2 separate regions of the Homo sapiens genome follow, and region 2 is linked to region 1. Evidence: fine-mapped expression QTL. A gene starts in region 1. The other region holds a variant in brackets. All regions are shown on one strand. Distances are from middle to middle.

The links. PIP is the estimated chance that this variant, and not a neighbour inherited with it, causes the effect. A credible set is the group of variants that fine-mapping cannot tell apart.
Region 2: its variant is the best candidate, but not a certain one, in a credible set for the expression of ELF4 in whole blood (TOPMed, PIP 0.53).

What each region holds. Positions count from the first base shown.
Region 1 is chrX:130,107,869-130,112,255 of GRCh38, reverse strand. ELF4 (E74 like ETS transcription factor 4) reads left to right here and starts at 1,759. Exons shown (of 9, transcript NM_001421.4): 1 at 1,759-1,931. It also overlaps a transcript of RAB33A not described here. RefSeq lists silencers at 1,028-1,147, 1,218-1,267, 1,278-1,327, 1,578-1,727, 1,808-1,877.
Region 2 is chrX:130,213,178-130,217,564 of GRCh38, reverse strand. ZNF280C (zinc finger protein 280C) reads left to right here. Exons shown (of 19, transcript NM_017666.5): 14 at 1,464-1,774; 15 at 2,232-2,372. Among named protein-coding and RNA genes, the nearest start is that of RAB33A, 43 kb to the right of the region's middle. The variant A/C (reference allele first, on the strand shown) is at 1,919.

The DNA of each region.
Region 1 (4,387 bases):
GCATGCCCGCTTGGAAAAGACAAAGTGCTTGTTTTGGGGACTTGATTCTGAGTATCCAGGAGGTCTCAGGGGCCGGCGCCCCAGTCCAGCCACAGGATCTTTCCTTGGGAACTTGTAATCTGCAGCTGCCTTTGTGGCCATCATCCACCACCACTCCTGTCCCCCAGTCCTGCGCCTGAGATGATCCTTTCCCAAGGCAGGAGAAGCAGGCCGATGCTGGAGGCTGAGTAGGTCCTTCAACCTCAAGCCCTTTAGAAGGCCCCATCCCCTGGGGCTCCTTCAGTCTTGATGCTTTCTGCCAAGGCTTAGGCCTTGCTGCCCCCACCCCCAAAAAGGCCACGTGGAACTATACAGAGTAACAATTCCCAGCGCACTCTCTCCAGAGCCTCCTATCAGCAGACCCACGTAGGCGGCGGTATTGATGTTGAGGCAGGTCAGAGAGGGCAAAGGGGAGATAGAAGGGGAGCGTGCCTGAGTGGCTTTCAAGTGGGCGCGTGGAGCAGAGCAGCCTGGCTTTGGACAGGGGAAGAAAGGTAGGCATGGGCTTTCTTCCAGCACCCGAACTCTGGCTCTCTTTGCACTTGCTGGGCCAGCCCCTCTCCCCCTAGCCCTTCCCCTGACTCATATCTTGCCAGCGTCCCCCACCCCAACTTCCCGCAGGAGTCCTAGACTCGACTTCCCTAAGAAGTCGCCGAAACTCTCCAGTCACCCCAGGTGTTACGCCCAGGATTCTGCGGAGTCGGGCATATGGTTCCAAAATTGTATCCTCTGGGCATCTCGCGGCCTCACCCGCCGCACGGCCCGCCCTCCCGCTGGGGCCTGCACACCCCAGGAGCTCAATAATGTGGAGCGCAGGGCTTGGCCCAAAGGCGTCAAGCAAGTCTCCACTTGCACGGGCCGAGGGGGCTGGACGAAACCTTCCCGAGTCCGCGGGGAAGGGATTTCTCTGCGGGGCGTTGTATGGGGGCTTCGCACCGGGAAGGGCGCGGAACGAGCAGAGAGCTCGGAGTCTCGCTGGCTAGAAGCAGAGTGGGGAGCGCCCGCCCGGGCCGCGGCGCACGACGCGGGCTCTGCGGGCGCCCTGCCTCGTGGTCCCCCGGGCGCGAGCGAGCCGCGAGGGGAATGAGAGGCCGCGCGGGCCCCTGGCACGGCTCCCCATGCCGTGCTGGCGACCGCGGCGGGCGGGCCGGGGCGGACGGGCGCTGTTTCCACCGAGATGCCTCGTCCCTCCCTCGTTCCCTCCCCCACCCCGCCCGCCCGCAGTCCCTCCCGTCGGTCCCTCCCTCCGGCTCTTCCCTCCCTCCCGCCCTGCCTCCTTCGCGCCCGCCCCATCCGCCGCCTGCGGGGACGTGTGTGTCTCTACTGCATTTCCCCTTTCGCTCGCTCGTTTCGGTGCATGTCTGCGCCGGTTCGCGCCCCCTCCCCGGGCGCCCCTGCCGCCCCGTGTCTTGGCCCGGCCCTCCCCGGCGTCCGCCCCGCTCCCCGCGCGCTCCACCCCGCCCCCCGCCCCGTTTTATCAGGGGCGCCGCCGTCTCACCTGGTATTTGCATCTCTCCCTCCAACTTGCCATTGGCGGCGCGAAGTGTGGGAGAGCCCTGCGCCTCGCCCGCCCGGACCAGCCTGCCCCGGCGCCGAGGTGAGTCACGGGCGCGGGGTGGCGGGGGCAGGCGGGCGGGGAAGAAGGGCGGGCGGGGAGGAGGGCGGGGGACGGCGGCCCCGGCGGCCGCGGGGACCGACCGGGCGCCGCGCTCAACTTCCACTTCTCCTTTCGCCGGCGCCGAGTTCCTGGCGCCGCTCGCCCGGCCCGGCTTCCGAGGGGAGAGGACGGGCTGGCGGGGCTGGGGACCCGCGTCTCGGCCCCCGGAGCGGGGACCACGGAGACAGACCCCGGCCCGGCGACCGAGCTGGGCCCGTGAGCCACTCGGCCTCAGGTACGTCGATGGCGCCGGTTCTTCGAGCCTTGGGGGACGTGGAAAAGTTTGCTTGAGGGCGGAATCGAGAGCGCCGGGGCCCCGGCGTGGGGCTGGGGGCCCAGGGAAGGGCGGGAGAGTCGCGGAGTGTCGCGAGCCGCCCTGGAGTCGCCCCGCCGCGCGTGTGATGGAGAACCCGGGCTCCCGATCCCGGGATGGAAGTGGAATGGATTCCCCGAGTCGGGGAGTCGGGGTAGGGGCCCCTGTTTTCCCTCGCCCCCGGCAGCCTGGGTTCCGTGACGGGGCCGATCATGACAGCGGGCCCCCAGAAGCTGGGCGCCCGAGGGCAGAGGAGGTGGGGCGGACCGCGGCGGAGCTGCTAGATGGATCCGACTGCCCCCGGGGCTTCTGGGGCCAGGGCTTTAGGGTCACACGCACACACGCGCACGCAGACCTATGATGTGGAGAACTGGATCGCCAAAATAGAGACCTCTTGGCAGGGGCCGGAGTTTCCGTGTGAGCCAGCCGCCAGCCTTCCCGCTCCCGCGTTCCCGCTCTCCCCGACTCTCCCGCCTCCGGGTTCCCTCCTGGGCCGCCGCCTAGGGGATTCAGCAGCCGCACCGTGCGGGGTCCCCTCACGCCAGCGCCTTGCTTTGGAGGCTTGAGGGACTGCTGAGGCGGTGACCGCTTTATGAATTCCTGGCTCCTCCACCGCACCCTAACCCTGACTCCCTTTTCTCACCACCGTATGCCTGCACATCACCTTCCTGACCAGAGTCACCTCCTGACCCCTTGGCACCTCGGCTCAGCGAGGTCCTCCTGGGCCGCCCCCGCCCCGCACCATACCCCAGCTGAGGGATTTGATGGCCATTTGATTCCTGCCCCTCATCCCTCGGCCTGTGATAGAGGCCTGTCTGGTCCTGCAGCCTCTTCTGGTTAATGTTTGACAGTTCATTGTGGCTAATTATTTTAATTAGCTCTTAAAGTGGGAAAGAACAGTTAACCTTGGACTTCTCGATTTTGGCCTGGTGGGGCCTCAAATGGGAGGAGTGCTGGGGAGGTGGGGAGGTAGGAGCGGAAGTGAGGTCACCACCCCAGGGCCTGAACCACCACTGCTCAGCCCCAACAGCTGGTGGGCACGCCCATTGGGGACTCACCCCCTGCCAGCTGACCCCTGGCCCGAGTGCCAGGTTGGAGGTGGGTGAAGGGAACAGTTCTAGCTCTTCCCTTTGGGGAGACTTTGGCACTGAAAATGCCCGGGGAACACATATGCCCAGCAAGAATGCCAGTCCTTCCTTGCAGTTAGTTACACTGGGTTTTCCTGGTTATAAAGTGCTTTCTCAACCATTAATTCAGATTCAGTGCATCCAGTACAGGAGCAGCGTAGGGGGAGCTCTCTGGAGTTCAGTGAAGATTATCAGGGAGGACTTCCTATCCCAGCCAGCTGGTGTGAGGAAGAGGCTACCTTGCATCTGGTTGTTTTTGGGGCTGGATTCAGAGCCTGGGATCTCTTGTTGGGGGCAGGGGTGGGGGGGACCATGAAGCAGGCTCCATGCTACCACCCTCACCCAGCCTCTTGCTGTGAGCCGAAGGAGTGGCTTGTTTGCAACTATGTCTGGCATTCCTCCCTGTGCTGCACTGTTTGCTCGGTGGTTGCTCAGGAACTGGCGCCCACCCCTGGACAACCTAGGGGCCCAAAATTCACTCTCCCTCACCTAGTGCTAAGTGGTGACACAGTGGCTTCTGTCTTCTCTGGCATATATTGGGATCTAAAATAGAGGGTGCTGTGGTCTGTCTCTAGGGGCCTGAGTGATAGCATGTCCAAAATGCCCCTCATCTTGCAAAAATCAGGCCCTGTGCCGCACAGACCCAGCTAGACACAGGCTGAGGAGTTTGCTTTCCTGGGGAAACCTCTGCTCTTCTGCTCTTAAGCTTGGCCTTCTTCCTTTCCACATCCCCTACCCCCGCAATGTAATTTTACATCCAGTTTTTGTTTTTGCGTTTAGAGTGTTGTTTTTTTTTTGGTTTTTGTTTTTTAATTCAGGGTCTCACTTTGTCACCCAGGCTGGAGTGCAGTGGCACAGTCACAGCTCACTGTAATCTTGAACTCCTTACCTCCAGTTCTTTTTTTTTTTTTGAGATGGAGTTTCACTCTTGTTGCCCAGGCTGGAGTGCAATGGCACGATCTTGGCTCGCCGCAACCTCCGCCTCCCAGGTTCAAGTGATTCTCCTGCCTCAGCCTCCCGAGTAGCTGGGATTACAGGCATGTACCACCACGCCCGGCTAATTTTGTATTTTTGGTAGAGACGGGGTTTCTCCGTGTTGGTCAGGCTGGCCTCGAACTCCTGACCTCAGGTGATCCACCCGCCTCCGCCTCCCAAAGTGCTGGATTATAGGCGTGAGCCACTGTGCCCAGCTACCTCCAGTTCTTAAAGCCTGGCTGTCTAGGTTGAAATCCCAGCATTGTTATTTACTAG
Region 2 (4,387 bases), 110 kb before region 1:
TACACAGTTCAGTGGTTTTTAGTATATTCAGATTTGGGCAAACATCACTACAATAAATTTTAAAACATTTTTATCACCCTCAAAAGAAACCTCATACCCTTTAGCATTCACTATTTCCCCTCCATTAGACCTGTGCAAACTTTAGTCTGCTTTTAGTGTCTATGGATTTTCCTATTCTGGACGTTTCATATAAATTGAGTCATACAATATGCCATCTTTAGGGACTGGTTTCTTTCGCTTAGCATAATGTTTTGTAGGTTCATTGATATTGTACCATGTTTCAGTACTTCATTCTTTTTTGTGGCTGAGTAATACTCCACTGTATAGATATTCTACATTTTATCCTTTCATCTATTGGTGGGCATATGGGTTGTTTCCTCTTTTTGGCTATAATGGTGCTGTAAAAATTCATGTACAGGTTTTTGTGTGAACGTATGTTTTCATTTCTCATGGGTATATACCTCTGAGTAGAATGGCTGAGTCAAATGGTAACTCTTACCTTTAATATTTTAAGAAACTGCCAAACTGTTTTTCTTTTTTTGTTCTTTTGTTTTGTTTTGTTTTTGAGACGGAGTCTTGCCGTGTTGCCCAGGCTGGAGTGCAGTGGTGCGATCTTGGCACACTGCAACCTCCGCCTCCTGGGTTCAAGCAATTTTCCTGCCTCAGCCTCCCGAGTAGCTGGGATTACAGGTACCTGCCACCATGCCTGGCTAATTTTTTGTATTTTTAAAAGAAATGGAGTTTCACCATGTTGGCCAGGCTGGTCTCAAACTCCTTACCTCAAGTGATCCGCCCACCTCGGCCTCCCAAAGTTCAGGGAGTACAGGCCTAAGCCACCACACCCAGCCTGCCAAACTGTTTTTCATTGTAACTACACTGTTGTGCATTCCCACCAGCAATGTATGAGGGTTCGCATTTCTCTATGTCCTAGCCAATACTTGTTATTGTCTGTTTATTATAGCCATTCTGGTTGGTGAAGGGACATCTCATTTGGGATTTCATTTGCATTTCCCTGGTGACTAATGACGTGGACCATCTCTTTGTGTGCTTATTGGCCGTTTGTATATCTTCTTTGAAGAAATGCCTATTCATCTATTTTCTCTTTGGTTGCTTGTGCTTTTGGTGTCATATATAAGAAACCGTTGCCTAACTCATGCTCACAAGAATTTACTACTGTATTTTCTTCTAAGAGTTTTATAGTTTTACCTTTTAGAATTTGGTCTTTAATACATTTTGAGATAATTTTTGTATATAATATGAGGTAAGGGTTCAAATTCATTCTTTTGCACATGGATATCAGTTTTTGTAGCAGCATTCATCAAGACTATTTTTTGCCCCATTGGAAATGTTTTGGGACCCTTGCCAGTTTACCGTAAATGTGATATTTACGGCTTACAATGATATTTTTAATACTAATGCGATGGTTACTTTTCTAAAAATATGTATTGGCTTTGTTTTTATAGGTTACTATTCGAGCTTCACTTGGACCTCTCCAGTCAAAATTACCAACTGCACCTTTCGGTTGCGCTCCAGGCACTTCTTTTCTTCAGGTCACACCTCCGACATCTCAAAATACAACTGCTAGAAATCCTAGAAAATCTAATGCCAGTAGATCTAAGACAAGTAAGCTTCATGCAACTACATCCACTGCAAGTAAAGTTAATACAAGTAAGCCAAGGGGACGTATAGCTAAGTCCAAAGCAAAACCCTCTTACAAGCAAAAGCGACAGCGCAACAGAAAAAATAAAATGAGCCTTGCTTTGAAGAACATAAGGTAATATCTTTTATTCCTGATATACAATACAAATTTAATCTTATGTATATAATTTATCATATCATAAAACCCTCTTACACATTTACATGATAATCACTTATCTGGCATAAAGACCAAGCAAATGAGAAAAAGGTACTTTTTACA[A/C]CTGCTGAGCAGAACTTGAGTCATTGTGTTTATTCTCTAATTTTCATCTTTTACACTAAACTTATATTTTGTGCTTTTATCTTATGATAGATTAATTGGTTTATTTGATCCCTTTTATTCCAGGGAAATGTTAACTGGTGTTAAATTTTTTACACTTACTCTAGCTTGTTTCAAAGCAAATTTTGAAATTATGAGTCTACTTAAAGATACCAATTTAAACATTTTGGCTTCAGTTAATAAAATGTTAATAAGATTTTCCCCTGTTATTTTTGTTTTATAATCTCTTTTTATCTTTTTTTTCCGTCTCCATAAGGTGTCGTCGGGGAATTCACAAGTGCATTGAATGTCATTCCAAAATAAAAGATTTTGCAAGCCACTTTTCTATATACATCCACTGCAGTTTTTGCAAGTACAATACTAACTGTAACAAAGCCTTTGTAAATCATATGATGAGGTAAGTTAAACATGTAAACTGCCAATCAGAATTTCCATTTGGGTCATTTGTTTTTTGAAAACAGAGTTATCCTATTGAAAGCAAGTTTGTCTCATCAAGGAACTAAAAGGGTCTAGCAATAGGGAACTTCTAAGATGTTCCTTGTACTATTTTCCAGCATAGTAACTCATAAAATTACTGGGACAAAAACTCTGAGAACAATTAGACTAATGAAATTAAAATGAGTTTGTTAGGGAAATTTGTTTTTTCTATGGGACTTTTTTTTCTTTTATGTCTTTCAAAAAGTGGTTATTTTTTAACATAAAATGTTAAGTGTTTTCAATATATTTATCAAATAAATATGATCAGCTCTTGCATTCCACATCTGTGGATTCAACCAACTGTAGATAAAAGTGTTTTTAAAAAATTAGGTCTTTACTGAACATGTGCAAACCTTTTTCCCATTATTCTCTAAACAATACAGTATAAAACTATGTAATAGCAGTTACATTGTATTAGGTATCATAGGTTCACAAATCTAGAGATGATTTAAAGTATACAGCAGGATATGTATAGTTTATGTGCAAGTACTATGCCATTTTATATCAGAGACTTGAGTCTCTGCAGATTTGGATACCTGCAGGAGGTCCTAGAACCAATCCCCCATGGATACAGGGACCCCTGTATATGTAATTTCCTGAGTGTTATCCTCTTCACAGCGATCACTTTGAGAGGTTCCAGGCTTTTTAATGATGCTAAGAACATTATCCTGTCTCTGTCTCCCGCATCTGTCTGTCCATTTGTCTTTATGATCATCCATCTTTGCATTCATTCAATGAAACATAAGAGACTGTAGGAATATTCCAGTCATGATGCTACCGTTAGAATTCCTTTTCATGCATTGATTCAACTTAATTTGAGCACCTATGGTCTACTCTACACAAGGGAAAGACTTCAGAGCCCCCCTTACTTTCATTTGAACCTCATTCACAGGGGCTTGCTTTATTCCTTCAGATTGGATTTTATTTTAAATAACCAAAAAGTTTCCAGATATAAGTTCATTATTCTAATTAAGATAGTTCCATTTATTTTCAGTTAGAAATAAGATACAACTAGCCAGGCACAATGGCTCATGCCTGTGATCCCAACACTTTAAGAGGCCAAGGAGGGAGGATTGCTTGAGCCTAGGAGTTCAAGACCAGCCTGGGCAACATAGCAAGACCTCATTTCTATTTTTTAAAAAAGAAATAGGTATAACCAATAAAAGTTGTTTTCTTGCAGATTATAACAAGACCTCTATATTATTTTCTGCTCATAATCAGCTACCACTTTGAAGGATTCACCCACGTTTTTTGATGGCTTCAGCACCTGGCTTGCAGGGATTTTTTTCCCTTTGGTGGTCAGCCTGACCTTATGATACCTTTACTTCTTTAGTGCTAGCACTTTACATCCCTTTCTGCTTTGTTGTATCCCCTTTCTTAACACCATCCCATTTTACCTCATTGTAGACAATACTTATTTTGAATTCTCATTACCCCATGACTTTCAGAGTCTTGACCCCTTTTTCTAGTCCAGTAGTATCAATTCAATTTTGTAGCCAACCATGCCCTCAAGGTCTTCTGTTTTGAATGCTGCTTTGTTTCTGTCCTAAAATCCTTTATATCTTCAGGCATGCTTAGTCTTGCTATCTTTGCATCTTTTATCCTTTTTGATGTATCCCTATGCTCAGTTCTAGACTACCACACCATGCTTGATTCAATCAGCTCTGAATTCATGATCTTTAATTTGGTCCTGCCCTTTTAAAAATACCGCTTTGTTTTTGTTTCGTTTTGTTTTGTTTTGAGATGGAGTCTTGCTCTGTCACCCAGGCTGGAGTGCAGTGGCATGATCTCGGCTCACTGCAAGCTCCGCCTCCCGGGTTCATGCCATTCTGCTGCCTCAGCCTCCCCAGCAGCTGGGACTACAGGCACACGCCACCACGCCCGGCTAATTTTTATTTTTATTTTTATTTTTTTTGTATCTGTAGTAGAGACGGG